2 separate regions of the Homo sapiens genome follow, and region 2 is linked to region 1. The links come from fine-mapping of genetic effects on gene expression. Tissue or cell type: lung. Region 1 holds a variant in brackets; the other region holds the start of a gene. All regions are shown on one strand. Distances are between the middles of the regions.

Region 1 (8,000 bases):
ATCACACTTATGCAGCCCCCAGTGAGCCCCCAGTGAGCCCCCAGCACACTGGCATCACACTTATGCAGCCCCCAGTGAGCCCCCAGCACACGGTATCACACTTATGCAGCCCCCAGTGAGCCCCCAGTGAGCCCCCAGCACACGGGCATCACACTTATGCAGCCCCCAGTGAGCCCCCAGCACACGGTATCACACTTATGCAGCCCCCAGTGAGCCCCCAGTGAGCCCCCAGCACACGGGCATCACACTTATGCAGCCCCCAGTGAGCCCCCAGCACACGGGCATCACACTTATGCAGCCCCCAGTGAGCCCCCAGTGAGCCCCCAGCACACGGGCATCACACTTATGCAGCCCCCAGTGAGCCCCCAGCACACGGGCATCACACTTATGCAGCCCCCAGTGAGCCCCCAGCACACGGGCATCACACTTATGCAGCCCCCAGTGAGCCCCCAGTGAGCCCCCAGCACACGGGCATCACACTTATGCAGCCCCCAGTGAGCCCCCAGCACACGGGCATCACACTTATGCAGCCCCCAGTGAGCCCCCAGTGAGCCCCCAGCACACGGGCATCACACTTATGCAGCCCCCAGTGAGCCCCCAGCACACGGGCATCACACTTATGCAGCCCCCAGTGAGCCCCCAGCACACGGGCATCACACTTATGCAGCCCCCAGTGAGCCTGAACAGCGGGAGACTGAGCTTGCAGCAGAACCATGATTACGGCTCTGGACGGGGCTCACCCATGGCGGGAGGAGGCGGTCCCAGGGTTCGCCCTTGGAAAGCTAATGGCCCTCACACCTCCCAAGCTTCCCGGGGTGCGGCTGGTGCTCCCAGGCCTTAGCGCGCTGCTCTGAGCTCAAAGCCACCGCCACGGCTAAAACACAGCAGCGCCACGCACAGCACCGTGTTGACACGCTGCGATGAGGACATGCCAGGGCACGTTTCCTGTGCAGCTGGGGTGGGAAAGAGGCCTGGCCCCCAGACCCCGCCCGGCCCACCTCCTCGGCCCGCTGAGCCTCCATGTGCTTGTCCAGGTACGTCCCCTCCAGCACCGAGCCCACGATGGTCAGGCCCTTGCCGGCCTTCAGCTGCGACGTGAAGGACAGCAGGCGGGGGTGCTTCACGGCCTGCTCCGCGTCCAGGTTCAGCATCACCAGCACCTGGGGCCTGCAGCCAGGGTGGGGCGGCTGTTACCACGGCAACGCTTACCAGGGCACGGCCCATCAACAGGCAGGGCAGATGGGACGGGCGGGGCACACGACACAGGTGGGACGGGAGATACATGACAGGCGGGACAGGGGACAAAAGGGGCAGGTGACAGATGGGATGGGGAAACGTGACACACGTGGGGTAAGTTGAACAGGTGACAGGTGAGACAGGCCACAGAAGCCAGGTGGGACAGGCAGGGCCGATGGACAGGTGGGCACTAGCCAGGCAGGACAGGAGAACAGGTAGGTTAGACAGGTGGGACAGGTGACATGCTAGACAGGTGAGACAATGGCCCAGGACACACACCTGAAGCCCCCACCGAGGCCCTGAGGGGACAATGGCCCGGGGCACACCCGAGGCCCCCGCCGAGGCCCCTGAGGGGACAATGGCCCGGGGCACACACCTGAGGCCCCCGCCGAGGCCCTGAGGGGCAGAGGCTTCCCAAAGATGGCCTTTGCTTCAGCAGGAGCCACCCTCTCCCACCCCAAGCCCAGGGCTGTGCTGGCAGAGGGGCCGGCTCCCCACACCCCCACCCTGCAGCAGGGACACCCCCGGCCCCCAGCTGCGCCATCCGCTCTGCACCAGGCAGTGTTCACACCCCAGACCTTGCCTGAGCGGCTGAAGGTGAGAGGCCCCTGAGACTCAAAGGTCCCCACTCAAAGGCCGACCTCAGAAACAGCTCTTCTGTGCGTCTGAGGACCACGGGGCATGGGCGGTGCTCACCTCCAGTTCTTGGTGTGGGGGGGACCGTGCTCCACGCGCAGCAGGGCGTAGCGGGCGGCGTTCAGGGATAGGCCACGGATGCCATCGCCCCACTCCTTCTCGGCCCTGTGGGAAAGGAAGTCGGGGTTTGTCCAGCCGCGTACCTGGAGGCTCCTCTCCCACCTGGGAAAGGGGACTTCTGGGGGCAGGTGAGTTGGGGCAAACAGGACCCCCAGGAAAAGTCCCTGGATGAGGAGGGAGGCCTCCATGCCCACCCTTGCCCTGAAGGGAGCCCGTCCTAGGAGCCACCGGGTCAGAGGGTGCTGTGGCTGTGGAGGGAACGAGGTCTACGTCCAGCATGCGTGAGGTGCCTTCCTCACAGGACGGGGGACAGGAGGCCCATGACAGGGAAGTGGCTGGACCCCGGGCACGAGGCGGGTGCAGGTGGAGGGAGGGTGGGTGCTGGGGCACGGGGAAGGACGCCTGTGGCTGCCGAGTGAGTACAGACACAACCTGGGGACACCTCGCGAGACACGTAGCAGGAATAGTCAGCCGTGGGCTCACCGCCTGCTGAGGACGGCACGAGACAGAGCTCCAGGCTGGAGACCCTGTCCACAAGTGCAGGCACCTCGGCCTGGCTGGAAGTGGGAGGGAAACCCCAGCTTTCACAACACAGCCCACCTGGACGTGCTCCCAGCTGCCCCTGTGAGGGCACACGACGCTCAAGCCCCAGGGAGGCCCCTCCAGGGAGCTGCCCCAGGCATAGCATGAGAGGGGCCCGCCCTCCCGTGCGCCGGGTCTGTAAGGGGGGCTGACAGCGCTTACCCGCGGTACTCGATGTACTTGTAGATGCAGCCAGCGATGAGCATGGCGGACAGCGCGTAGTACCAGGAGCAGATGAACATCAGCGCCAGGCACAGGCTCATACCCAGAAAGGACAGGGTCCTGGGGGCGGGGCAAGTGGCTCGGGGCGGCCCAACGCCATGCAGCCCCCACACCTCAGCCACCACCACACGGACACTGCCCCTCCCTCAGTAAAACTCTCTGTTAACACTAGGAAAACAGTCACTGACGCCTGACGACCATGGCTGTACTCAACCACCTCTGAGGGGTGACGTGGCTCCCTGGGCCCCTGTGGGAGCTGTCACTCCAAAACCCAGTACATAGCTCCAGCTCCCAGCGTGCACACAGCACCTCGGCTGTGCATGCAACAAGGGGCTGAAGCGTCCACCCAGCGCCTGATTCCTGGGGAGGGGAGTTAAGAAGACCCACAGCCCTGATGGGCTACGCCCCAAGCCTGGGAAGGCTGGGCTGACCACGGGAGGTACAAGGCACATGCAGACACCTGGGCATCCTCGTAACCAGAGGCCTTCCTCAGGTGCAGTCTCATCAGCTGCGCAGGGGCTTACTCCGCAAAGGAACAGTCAAGGACGCGCTGGGGTCTTCAGGCCCAGAGCAGCTGGCCTTGTAGAGGCACCCAGTGTCCCAGCCTGTGGGGCTCCTGACGCCTGTGCTGAGCGGCCTCACCAGTGGCAGAGGCACCCAGTGTCCCAGCCTGTGGGGCTCCTCACGCCCGTGCTGAGTGGCCTCACCAGTGGTAGAACTTGAAGCGTGGACGCCAGTTGGGGGTACGTAGCAGGGTCTGCACGGCGCAGGCCAGGTTCACGAACAGGTAGCACATGAGGAAGAACCTGCAGGGACGGCCGGCCACTGATACGGGCCCACTGGGCCCCCCTGAGCCCCCAGTCACTGCCACCTGGGAGACCACCCTTGTCACTGTCCCTCCCACCTGCGCCTTGTCTCCCCATGTCTGTCTCTGCACGTGAGCTGACTCAGACTGATTCCGAATCAGGCCCCCTCAGGTTCCAGCCATCCTGTGACCACCTGGTCCATCAAGAGATGGGCCATCGTCCCTTCCCCAGCAGCCGTCTGTCCAGCCACACTGTCCCTGGCTGACCCCAGCGGGCGGCTGCCTGGAGGCCTGTGTACTTGTCTTCCCCGGCGCAACTCCCTTCCCGGCAGGATCCTGACTGCCCACAGCTGGCCATGCCTGTCTACTGCTTGTCCTGAGCAGGACCTCCCATCCACACTGCCCCACGCTCCAGGCCCATACACCCATCCCCAGGTCCCCGTCCTGTGGGGGCTCACATGGAGAGGATCGGGGCCACGCTGTCCAGAGAGGCGATGAGGATGCCAGTCTCGCAGATGAGGACTGTCAGCAGCAGCGCCCACGTGGGCTCCCCGTTGGCCTTCCCGTGGCCAAACACCTGCAGGGAGAAGGGCAGGAAGATGGGGCAGATGACACCACCCTTTTAGGAGAGAAGCTGCAGGCTGGTCAGGTCTAGCCCAGATGAATCTTAAAGACACAGACCAGCAGAAACGCCTTTCACAGTAGGTCCCCGGGACATCACGCGGCTGGCCTGGGAAGAAGCCCTGACAAAGGGCTGCAGCCCAGGAGGCTTCAGAGCTGTGCCTACGCCCGGCTTGCCTGCAACCTGTGTGGCCCCAGCCTGCCCCCCCGCCTCAGTTTCCCCGACCACACAACACAGGACCAGCGTCTCCAGGGCACTCGCGGTTCCCCAGACCCTGTGGTGACCTTTCTCATCAGGCCACCCTCACCTCCCAGAAGCTGAGGCCCACGGGGCCTGTGTGCCTGTCCCCTTCCTGGACACCATGCCCTAGGCCCGGCTGGGACTGAAGATGCAACCACACAAAGGCCCTGCGGGTCGGCACCCTGCCGAGGGACCAGCGACGGGCAAGGATGGCTCTGCCATCCACGACCTTCCCACAGCTGCCCCTGGGCCCAGGTAGCAGGAGGAGCCACAATCGGCAGCTCTGGGCACAGCACACGGACAGGACCCATGCGGGCGTCCGTGCAATCCTCAGAGCAGCCACACACACTGGCTGCAGGTGGCTGGTGACGCCACCTCCCACGGGCTGAAGAGCTCAGCCACACAGAGAAAGATGTGGCAGGCAGGCAGAGGGCTTCTGACCAGACAACAGACCAGGCACCTCTGGA[C/T]ACGTGGCTGTGGGCCCTCACAGCCGCTCCTGACACACCCGGGGCCGAGCTCGGAGGGACCTGCAGGCAGGAGGGCTAGAATTGCCTCTGCCCACCACCCACCTCCCACCACTCCCATGCTCTGTGCAGTGGCCAGGGGCAGAATGACCACCATGGGGTCCAAGCCGCGGGCATGCGTCCCACACACGGCACTGTGAGGATCCCGCAGGGGAGGAGAGCCCCCGACCCTGACCTTCCAGGGTCCCCCCGACGAGGGTGCGGGACTCACCTGCAGGAAGGGGACGATGCCGTCACGGGCAATGGCCTGCAGTAGGCGCGGTGCCCCCGTGAGGCTCTGCAGGCCGGCACCGCAGGTGGAGAAGAAGGAGCCGATGACGATGACCCAGGGGGAGGGCCAGGCCAGCATGCCGATGACCAGGTTCCCCTGCAGGGCCTCCCCGAACCTGCAGGCAGGCGGGCAGGCGGGCGGGCGGCTTTCAGAAGTGAGCCTGAGTCAGACAAAATGTCTTCTCCCACCCAGAGCGAGGGGCCCAGTGCAGTGGGGGCGACTCCTTGGAAAGCTGAGGCCCGGCCTCCAGTCCCCGTTGGCTGAAACCTCCACCAGGCTCTGCCCAGCATGGCCAGAATGCTCTGGAGGGTCTTCAGCGGGGGAGGGGGTCCTGCTCACCTCAGGGTCGCTCTTGGGAGCAGGGAAGACCCAGCCTGGCATCAGCTTCAGTCAGGGACCACCCAGGACCCCCGGGGCCTTGGGGCTGCCAGACACGCACACCCCATGAGGATGCAGGGTCAGTGATGACCTGCCTGGGACCCCACTACTTCTCCACTTGCCAGCAGGGCTGAGGGATCTCCCAGGGCCAAGCCTCACCCGTCCACACCCCTGTGGCCTCCCCAGGAAGGGCCTGCGCCCCCAGCCGCATCAGGGCTTGGAGTTGGCTCTGAACGGTTCCCCAGGCCCTAGGCTCCAGCGGAAGAGACGACACATCAGACCAAGGGATCCCAACCCTGGGACCAGGACGCCTTCAGCTCTGCACGCGGACATGAAGTCCTAGGGCGATGTAATTTCAAAGCCGAATTCATCCTCAGGAAAACCCTTGAAGACTACAGGCTTTGCACGAAAACTGCAGGTGGAAACGTACTTATCTCGTAAGACCACGCCTTCAATGCAGGCCCCAAACAGCACAATGCAGGAGAGATCCACAGCCCTCGTCAAGGAAAGGCAGGTCCGTGGGTGCAGGGTCCTCAGGTACGGGGGGTGGGGTGGGGTGGGGTGGGGTGGGTGGGGAGATGCACTGGCCAGCGGGCCGCAGGATCCAGGTGGGCGGGGACCGTTCTGCATCCCATCCCATCCCGGGCACGTCCTGTCCCCCGTGTCCTCAGCGCACCCTCCTGGGGCTCTGTCCAGCGCCACAGAACGGGGCCCTGGGGTGGTGGACACACACCTGGCCTGGTGCTTGACCGCCAGGGATTGGCAGGGGACCATGCTGAGGGGACAATGCTCGGCTGGAAAGAGGCAGCCTTGGGATTGAGAAGCCAGAGGCCCCGCGGGCCCAGCCTGCCGGCGGCACACCCCACACACCGCTGCGCATCACTGTCCACACGCGGCAGGGTGACTGCTTCTGTTTTCTCTACGATCGCATCACACAGTGGTGAAGAAGCCAGGGTCCTGACAGCAGCCCTTGCCCCGTCTCCCAGGGAGGATGACGTGGTGAGAGCACAGCCTAACCTGGGAAGTCACATGCTGGTGGCCGAGGGTATGATGCTGAGCCGGGGAGGGCATGGGGGCCTCCCCCCAGGCAGAGGCTGGAACCCTCGCCTGCACCCCTCCAAGGATACAGATGAAAGACGTCGTCACTATGGCCAGGATGGTCCCCGTGGGGATGGACTTCTGTGCATCCTTGAGGTCCCCGGACCGGTTTGAACCCGCCATGATACCTGTGAACATGGAAAATGCTGCAAAGACCCATCTGAGGAGTCAGTGCCATGTGATGGCAGCCCCTGCCCAGAAAGCTGGAAAGGCGGTCTCTGGGGAGACCCCGAGCGTGAGCTGCAGCCGAGGCTGCAGTCCAAGCTCCGCCAGCCCACGCTGCAATACTGCGGCTGAGGGGATGCGGGCCCAGGCACGCGGATGAGCACCCACGTCTACTGCTCCCCTGGATCCGAGGACGAGAACCGACCCCGTCACTGACCCCCACGCCCCCCACACCCAGGGCTTCTCTGGAGCCTGTGTTAATCCCATGGCCAAGGGTCAGCCCAGAGACGGTGCTGAGCAATGGCTCACAGGCCCCCAGGACCTAAGGACTTTGGGAATGAGATCCTAGAACGACTCAGCCCAGCCAGCCAGGCCAGCAGACGCTGCGACCCCTCCCGCTGTGGCACCACCTTGCTCTAGGGAGCCACGGCCGGGGATGTTTCCACACAATCGGCTCCTACAAAGCTCTGGGAAGCCGGGTCGGTGGGGGCCACTTCACGCCTGGCTCGGTCCCATCCAAGGCGCAGCCTGAAGCACCCATTGCTCGGGGTGGCCTGGGAGGCAGCAGAGCCCACAATCCAGTGCCGCGGAGACACCCGGAGCCACGCAGAGGCTCTGCCCCCACGCCCTCCACCCGCGGCTCAGAGACACCCGGAGCCACGCAGAGGCTCTACCCCCACGCCCTCCACCCGCGGCGCGGAGACACCAGGAGCCACGCAGAGGCTCTGCCCCCACGCCCTCCACCCACGGCGCGGAGACACCAGGAGCCACGCAGAGGCTCTGCCCCCACGCCCTCCACCCACGGCGCGGAGCGCACTCAGACGGACGGGGGAGGCTGGAGCGGAGGTACAGGGAGAGGACCCCCGGCAGATCACCCCCTCCATAGCAAGACGGGCCCACCTTCAGTGGAGGCAAGGGAAACACGAGAAGCCAGCGCTGTGGCCAGGCCCTGCAGCTGACCCTGGGCTCCAGGGCTTTCGGATGTGCTGAGATGAAGTCCGGGAGCAGACGTGGGAGGGACCAGAAGGGACCAGAAGGGCAGCTGCAGGCTGCACAAGCAGCCAGCGCCTGTCAGGGGCGTCCCGACAAGAAGGCCGAGTG
Region 2 (8,000 bases), 35 kb after region 1:
GCCCCGACCAGCCGCCCTGCACCCAGGCCTGAGCACCTGGCCCTCCCCTTGGCACCACCTTCCCGACAGCCATCCAGACCACGGGAGAGGCACTGAGAAAGCCACGCACTCTAAGAAGGGGATCTGGTGTCCAACGCTAGACAGAAAACCACCGTGGAATCCGTTTGGCCTCGCCCACTCAGAGAAGCCTGGGGAGCTTTGCAGAAGAGGAAACCATGAACCTGAGTCCACGAGGCAAAGGTCTCCTCATATGATCAGAGGCCCAGGAGCAGGTTCAGACCTGAACACGAGGCCACACCAGGAGAGGGAGCCCCTCACCACTCACTGATGGGCCTAGACCAGGGGGAGGGAACGGATACCCAACACCCAACACCGCGTGACCCTCTGCTGTGGAGGAAGCCCCAGCCCCTCTCTACCTGCCACAGCATACAAACACACACATACACACACACACGTGAGCATGCCCACAGCACACAGCTGTGCAAGAGCACAGTACACATGTATGCACACGTGTGTACATATATGTGCACATATACACAGTGCAAGCACATGGCTCACACGTGGATACACCTGCACGCTCACAAGGCACATAGGTGCCCGCACACATGGACCCGGCCAGCTGACCTAAAGCACCATGCTTTACCGCATGCCTGCTAAGGAGAGCCTCTTGCCGGGAGACAGCCTGGGAGTATGTCAGGCGCAGGAGGAAGCACAGGCCCCGGCCTGGATGCCCAGCAGCCACGGCGTTCCTGTGTATCTTGTTTCCTTTGGTTTTAAAAAGGGAACTCGATACACAAAATGCATGTCTTGTAGCCTCCCTGCCTGCTCACCACATACCCATGACCTTCCGTTCCCGCAACGCAGTGCCCAGCTGCTGCAGGGGCTCCCGGGCACAGCCGCGGGGTCAACAGCCTGCCTGTCCCTCCTGCTCCGACTGCCTCCCATGTCCGTGTCGGGAACGCCCTCCTGAAATCTGGGCACAACGAGAGCTCTCTGTCCCTACTCGGCAGGACAGAACCTGGACGCTCTGTGTGTGGTCCCCCTATCTAATGCGTGATCCCCCAAGTCCCTGCATCCCCAAAGGGGACCCCAGATCAGCACGACCGGCGTGCACCGTCTCGCCATTCCCAAGGGCAGTGCAGAGCATGGCACCCAGCACCCGACAGGCGAGGACGGCCCAGGACAAAGCGGCAGCTCTAGCTGTCCTCAGATTTTGGGAGGGGGCTCCCAACACGGACACGGTAGGTAGTTGGAGCAGGAGGGACGGGCAGGCCACTGACCACGCAACCGGGCCTCTGTCAGCGGCCAGGGGCAGAGGGAGGCAGGACCGCCCCTGGACAACCGACACGAGCTCAGCCACAGTGGAAAATCTCAGAAACGGAACCCAAAGAGGGAAGTGGCGCCCAAGCCAGGAAGAAGCTCCCGGCAAACCTGGGAGAGCCCCAGCTGAGGGTGGGAGACCTGGGGGTACAAGGCAGGACCCACCCTCTCCCAGCCCAGGGAGCCCCAGACGAGTGGAAGTCCCTCCTAGACAGTGGGTGGCCAGGGCCTGTGGGACCTTGACAGAGGCTCTGCACGCTGCACCTTCCAGACAGGCCGGGGCACTGGCCAGCCCTCCTTTCCCACCCCTCCCAGGGTCTCCGAGGCCTCTGGACGCACCCCTACAACCTGGGAAGGAGTGAGTCTACCCTGATGTGGTCACGGAGGAAGGGTGGGCTCCCCCAAGTCAGTTACAAAACCCACTCTACCCTGAAGTCGGACGAGACGCAGCCGGCCCCCAGCAGTGTCCTCCCACCTCCTACTCTCAAAAAACCACCCCACTGAGAAACTGAGGGTTAACACGTCCTTCTCATTTCAAGACGAGGTATTTCACATAAGAATAAAAGCTCCGTCCCAAGAAGTGCTGAGGGCACAGTGCCCATCCCCGGGACAGGACGCCTCCCGCAGAGGCTCCACCAGAAGCAGCAGGGAAGCTGCAGGGGTCGGGGACAGAAGGCCCCTGGAGCCAGGCTGGGCAGACGCGGCCTTGCTGGGCTCTGGGTCGAGCCAGGCAGCCCGGGCAGCAGCATCTACCCCTCTTTCCCCAGAACCCCCCAACCCAGGCTGGGGACACCAAGGCCCCTGCTCCTCAAGTTGGGGTGGCTCAGGACGCCCTCTCCACGCCCACCTGGCAGTGCCTAGGATCAGCCCACCAGGCCCCCCAAACTTGCTTCGCCGTCACCCAGGCGCCAGCCCAGAAGCTCCAGTACCTCCACAGACCGTTCAGGGGAACGGCAATGGAGTCAGGAAGAGCTTGGGTGCTGGTAACTCTGTGGCCGGACAGTTTTGGACCTGGCCTGTGACCTTGTGGTGTGGACCCCACACAGAAGGCCTTTGGGAGGGGCTCCGGCTTCTGCAGGACCCCCGCCCCCAACCACCACCAAAAAGCAAAGCCTGTGCCTCCTTCCCCAGGCTCCGTGCCCATCACGGGACTCCTCGCCGCACCTCTGTGGGCTGAAGATCAGGATGTGATCAAGTGGATTCCGAAGGGCAGCTGCGTGCCCGTTACAGCCTGGCAGTGGCTGGGCACCGGGCCCTTTCTGTGGAAGTAGGAAGCGGGTCCAGCACAAAAGCGCCAGGTGCAAGTTCTCTGCCAGTTCGGAGAAATCTCCCAAGTTCAGCTCACACCACAGGGCCACCCTCAAAAGTGTCCAGAAGCCCACACCTGGCCCATGCCCTCCCGTTCTCAATTTCATGAAGGCCAGGGAGCCTCCTGACACGCCCGTAGCAGGACCTGAGTGCGCGGGCAGCGACATGGGCAGCGCTCAGCCAGGGCCACTTCCTGCTGGGCAGACACAGGCCCAGGGCACTGCTCAACAGCCTTGAGAGTAGAAGAGACAAGAAAACGAACAAGCACAAAATTCTCTCTGGCTTAAAAGCAAATGACACTTACAGTCTAAAGACAAAAGTGAACCTGATCAGCCTTGAGAAGGGGCCGGCCAGACAAGAAGAGGCTCCTTCTGAGTGCGTTCCGGGGGCGTTGCTACAAAGCTCACACAGAAAGACCACGCCAGGGCCCACACTCCTTGGTGCTTCCTGCCTCCACGGTGGTGACTGGAGAGAAGGGGCTTGGACTCACGGACCCTGCTTAGTTAGCACTTCACCTGGTGTTGAGCCTGGCGCCCCGCCTGACCACTTCCAAGATCTGGGCTGGCCTCTGTGCAGAGGAAGCTGAGACCACTCTTCGCCCGCCACGGGGACCCTGATGACGCACCCCAGGCCACCAGGCCACTGCCTTCACGGTGGGTCCCCACCCGTGTCTCCGGGTTCCTAAACTGCCTGGAGGGGATGTCTGGCCTTTCCTGCCCGGGATGGTGGGTTAGGAAGGATCTGGGGTCTGGCACCGGACTTGTCCCTGGACAGACCTCACCTTCCTTCCACTGCCAGGGAGCAGGGAGGCTGCCACCCACTGCATGAGACCCGGGCACATGCGGGCACTGCCAGCACGCGGGGTGGGGGCTGGACTGAGTCCGGACACCTTCTCAGAGACTCCGGATGGAAGGGCCTAAGAGCCTCCGGTTTCTAGAGGGGGCTGAGATCCGGGGAGTAACTGGGATTTGGAGCCAGGATGGAGGGAACAGGGCTGGGGGATTCTCTCCCCAGCCCCGTCCCCACCCCCTAGAGAAAGTGAAAGTGCTAGAAACCTCCAGATTCCCGGAACGGGGGACGGGAACACGGAGGACGCGGCCTGAGCAAGGCCCCGGTGGCTGCCCCCTCCCCAGCCAGGGCGCAGTCCTTCCTGTTCCGCCTCTGGGGGGTGGGCGGCTCCTCCAGGGTCAGGCGGGGGCAGGACGGGCCGGCCCGGGCTAGTGTTACCGGACGGCCGCGGCGCAGGGGAAGGGAGAGCGCGGGGGACGCAGGACGCCCCGGCTCCCGAACCGCCCGGGTCTCCACCGCCACCCCTGTCCCACTAGGGACCACCCAGGGGCCCGGGCTCCCTCCGGAGGCGCGCTCCAGCCCCTCCCCGTTTCCATGGCTACCAGCAGCGGCGTCCACACCTCTGCCCCCGGTCCCACCCGAGCTGACCGTACCGGGAGCCCTGGCAGGGCCCCTCGCCCCCTAGCGCTGCCACTAACGTGGGGTGGGGGCCCTCGTGGGGGACCGAGAACAGGCGGTGGGGGCGCGGGAAGGGGCGCCTCCTGTACCCCCGGCCCCGCCGCCCGCCTCCGCTCCCGGATGCCGGGCCCAGACCCGCGCTCGGGGCGCTCGGCCTTTGTCCGGCCAGGTGCGGCCGCGCTCACCCGGGCTGGGGCGCTCGGGCTCGGGGCCCTCGGGGGTGCCCGGAGCCTCCGTCCGCTCGGCAGTCTCGTCCCCGCCGCCGTCGGCGTGAGCCTCCACGGGCACCACGGTGAAGTTGGTGGGCATGGCCGCCTGCAGCCGACAGTCCCCGTCCCGGCCCGGCCCGCGCTGCGCCGCTCCCGCCGACGCCACGGGACTTGGAGGCAGGGGCGGGGTCCGACCGAGCCGCCCCGCCCCGCCCGGGCCACGTGACTTCACCTGCTTGCCCCGCGGCCCCACGAAAAGTTGGCCCGCGGCGACTTCCTGCAGGGACCCCAACCCAGGCTGCGTCTGTCTGACCGCCGCGACCCGGGACGCGGGGCTTTCGCTGCCTGCGCTCCCGACCATCGCAGAGCCCGCGAATCCCCGCTCAGTCTCCTGCACCCCCTCCTGCTCCAGCCCCCTGCCCCTCCTGCTGGAACTCCCCGCCCTCCCCGCCCTCCCCGGCCCCCTCCCCGCCTCCCCTCTTGTCCCCTTCCCCGACCCCCCACTCCTGCTCCAGCCCCCTGCCCCTCCTGCACGCCCTTCTGCTGGAACCCCTCACCCCTCCTGCACCCCCCCACCCTTCCTGCACCCCCTCCTGCTGGGCCCCCCTGCCCCTATGAACCCCCTCCTGCTGGAACCCCTGCCCTTTCTGCACCCCCTCCTGCTGGGCCCCTCCTCCTTCTGCGCCCCCTCCCGCACCCCCTCCTGTTTGCCCCCCATTTCCTGCTCCAGCCCCCTACCCCTCCTTCTTCCCCCTCCTGTTCCCCCCTGCCATCCTCCAGCACCCACCTCCCACACAGTCCGCCCACCCACTCCAGGCTGTCAACACCCGCTCAGACCCTGGGCTCCTAGCCTGGCTCCTGGCTAGCCCAACCTGGCTGCAAAGGCAACTCCAGTGGAAGGAGCCTTGGATAGCCTGGGGGTGGGGTACTCCGGAGCTTGGTCCAGCTCCAGTTTAGGGACCTAACCCAGTAGAGGGAGTCCCCCCCCCCACCCATGACAAATACCACCCACGAAGACCCCAGTCTCCTCCACACCTGCCCCAGGAGTGCCCCGCGGCCCCTGCCCTAGAACCCTCCCTTCCCTCCTTGGGAAATGTTCCAGAAGCTCACAGGGTGATGCAGGGAAGGTGGAGTTCCAGAACCCACCAGGCAGACACCAGGATACCACCGGCCAGCACCTGGCACATTTCTCAACAAATGACTCATGAAAAACGGAACAATCAGATGTCCGTCAATGGGGAATTGGGCTAAAATGCTATGGCACACAGGTGCAATGAGTCAGCCTTTATTCCTAATCACCCACAACTGCTGTACGACAACAAAGCAGAAACACAGGTGGTGTGGGCAAACACGGCCACAGCCTCTTGTCACGTGGAAAATGGGTATGGCCTGGCCATGTTTTAGCCGCTTGCCTGTCTAATCCTAAAAGGCAGCTGGAGGGGAGTGATGGCCTCCGGGCTGTGGGATCACCGGGCTCTGTGGGTTCAAGGAACGCAAGCCCAACCTCTCCAGCCATTTCCAGTAAAGCCAGTCATGCCCTGGGGTGGCCTAGGGTTCTACCCCTTTGCCCCATGGACTCTTCTGGGCAGAAGCTGTAGGCCTGGGACCCTCCTGGAACGTCGCCCATCCAGCACCAGCCCTTGCAGAGGTGGGGGTTCCTCTGGCCTGGGTGTCTGGAGCTGTGCCTGCTCCACACTCTCACCCCACCTCCCACCAAAGGGAGCTCAGGGCTGTGGATGGTGCTAGGTCAGCTGCCTCCCTGGGTCAGTGGGTTGGAAGGTAGGAAACCATCACCTCCCCAGAAGATAAAATAGTTCCCAGGCATCCTTATGAGGAGGGCTGGCTTTGCTAAAAAGATCCAGGGGGTGGGAACAGAAGTGCCCAATGGGGTCAATTATAGGGTTCACACTTAGGGTGCTGGGTAAACCCTCTCCTCAGTCACCCCAGCAGGGGCTTCTGTACATTCAACCCTGGTTGCCACCCAGCGCTATTCCCGAGGGTTGGACAGAGCTCAGGGTGGGCACGAGGCCTTCCCAAGTGATGCCAGCAGGAGCAACAGATGTGCAGGGCTCCCGTCGCACATCCAAGCTCTGCTTCACACCCCAGGACCCCAGGGCCGGCTGCCCGCCATGTGCTGGCTGTGGACCTTCAGAGGAGCTGGTTTGGAGGGTCTGTGGCCAGGGCCAGCTCCCGGACTCAGGACTCATCAGCTTCATTTTACAGAGGAGGAAACTGAGGCCCAGGAGTTTAGGGTCCTGTGGCAGCTCCGAGGGTGGTCTTCTCTGTGATTACAAAATCTTGACTAGGACCAGGGGCCATGGCTGAAGCACCTGGGTGGGTGCCCAGCCCTGCCAGGCAGAAGGCAGGTGGCTTCTCTTGTTTAAATCTTAGATCTTACTTGTGGGAGACCTCGGGTGGGGGGTGAGGTCTGCTGCCTTTTGCATTCTAATCAGGTGAGTCACGACAGGGATCAGCACCCTGTAAGCACCTGCGGGTCAAGACAGAGACCCTTGCCGGAGCCCAGAAGCCGCTGCAGGCCCCTCCCATCCCATCAGTAGCCCATCCCTAGGGGTCTGGTGGCCCCTCCCTTCGCTCTGTGGGTTTCCGTGTCCACGTATATCCTCCCACACGGCAGCCTGGGGTTAAATGTGCGTTGTGTGACTTTCAGTGCTCTCTTCCTACCCACCTCCATCCCTCTGTCCTTTTCTGTACCCGGCACCTGTTGTAGGAAGTGGCCCTCGGACACGTGGAGGTACCCGAGGCCTGGGTTGGAGCTGCATCTTTCGGTGCAGGCCTCTGCGTCTCCTGGAAGTGGGCACCTGGAGCCAGGGGACTGCTGGGATCCGGGTCCAGTCCCCTGGCAAGGCCGGGGGCTCGCAGAGGGAGCCACGCACTGTCTGGTGGTAGCTCCTCCGTCCGCAGTCGTTGGTGCTTGATGTCTGAATCGACAGATTCATGGAGCAAAATGGTGATTTTCCAGTGCGTGGTGGCTTCGTCATGAATTCACTGGAGGGAGAGGCTCATCTTGTCCGTCTGGCCATCTGGATAATGGTGCCCACAGGAAAGGCAGGGCAAGGGTGCCTCTCCCTCATTTGTCAGTTTCCACAACGGTGAATTGGTTCCCGACAATCTCCCAAGTATATTTGTACATCGCTGATGAAACACATTGGTGGGTCTCAGTCGATCACCATTAGTGCCCTTTCCAAGCATCGGTGTCCAGCTTTGCCCAGGGGGCCTCTTCAAATGCAATCTCGCATCCTTATGATGTGAGCCTGGTCATCTGCGATGGCCTCTTGGCCGTGTGCAGGGCACAGCCAGGGGAACCCTGGGATTTAGTGCGAAAGTGTAGCCGATGGTGGTTACATTCTGTGTGTAGATTCTCGAAACAGTCCCTGCTGCCTGCCACCCTGGGGTGGAGTTTCTAATGGATTAGGACGGACACCCAATGCCAGCTTCCAAGCCAGGAGGCCGCTCGTGCCCACGGCTTGGAATCAGGGCTGTGGCCTGGGAGGGCTCTCACCAGACGCAGGCTGCCTCCAGGTATCTGTGTGCCTCTGCCCACGGAGCTTCTCCCCAGGTCCGCGGGTCCCCCCAGTCCACTTCTGCTTTCCTGTTAGGGTGGGGGGCTCATCTCCTGGTGCGCCATCTGCATCCTTCTGGGCTGGGAACCTGCTGTCGGGTATCAGGCAGGGCGCA

What was found. PIP is the estimated chance that this variant, and not a neighbour inherited with it, causes the effect.
Region 2: SLC12A7 starts here. The variant in region 1 is fine-mapped to the expression of SLC12A7 in lung (TOPMed, PIP above 0.99).

What each region holds. Positions count from the first base shown.
Region 1 is chr5:1,072,635-1,080,634 of GRCh38, forward strand. It overlaps SLC12A7 (solute carrier family 12 member 7), which reads right to left. Exons shown (of 24, transcript NM_006598.3): 10 at 6,764-6,862; 11 at 6,067-6,124; 12 at 5,199-5,373; 13 at 4,060-4,178; 14 at 3,504-3,602; 15 at 2,737-2,856; 16 at 1,933-2,037; 17 at 999-1,167. Among named protein-coding and RNA genes, the nearest start is that of MIR4635, 14 kb to the left of the region's middle. RefSeq lists enhancers at 333-887, 888-1,442. The variant C/T (reference allele first, on the strand shown) is at 4,931.
Region 2 is chr5:1,107,588-1,115,587 of GRCh38, forward strand. SLC12A7 (solute carrier family 12 member 7) reads right to left here and starts at 4,476. Exons shown (of 24, transcript NM_006598.3): 1 at 4,281-4,476. The coding sequence starts at 4,404.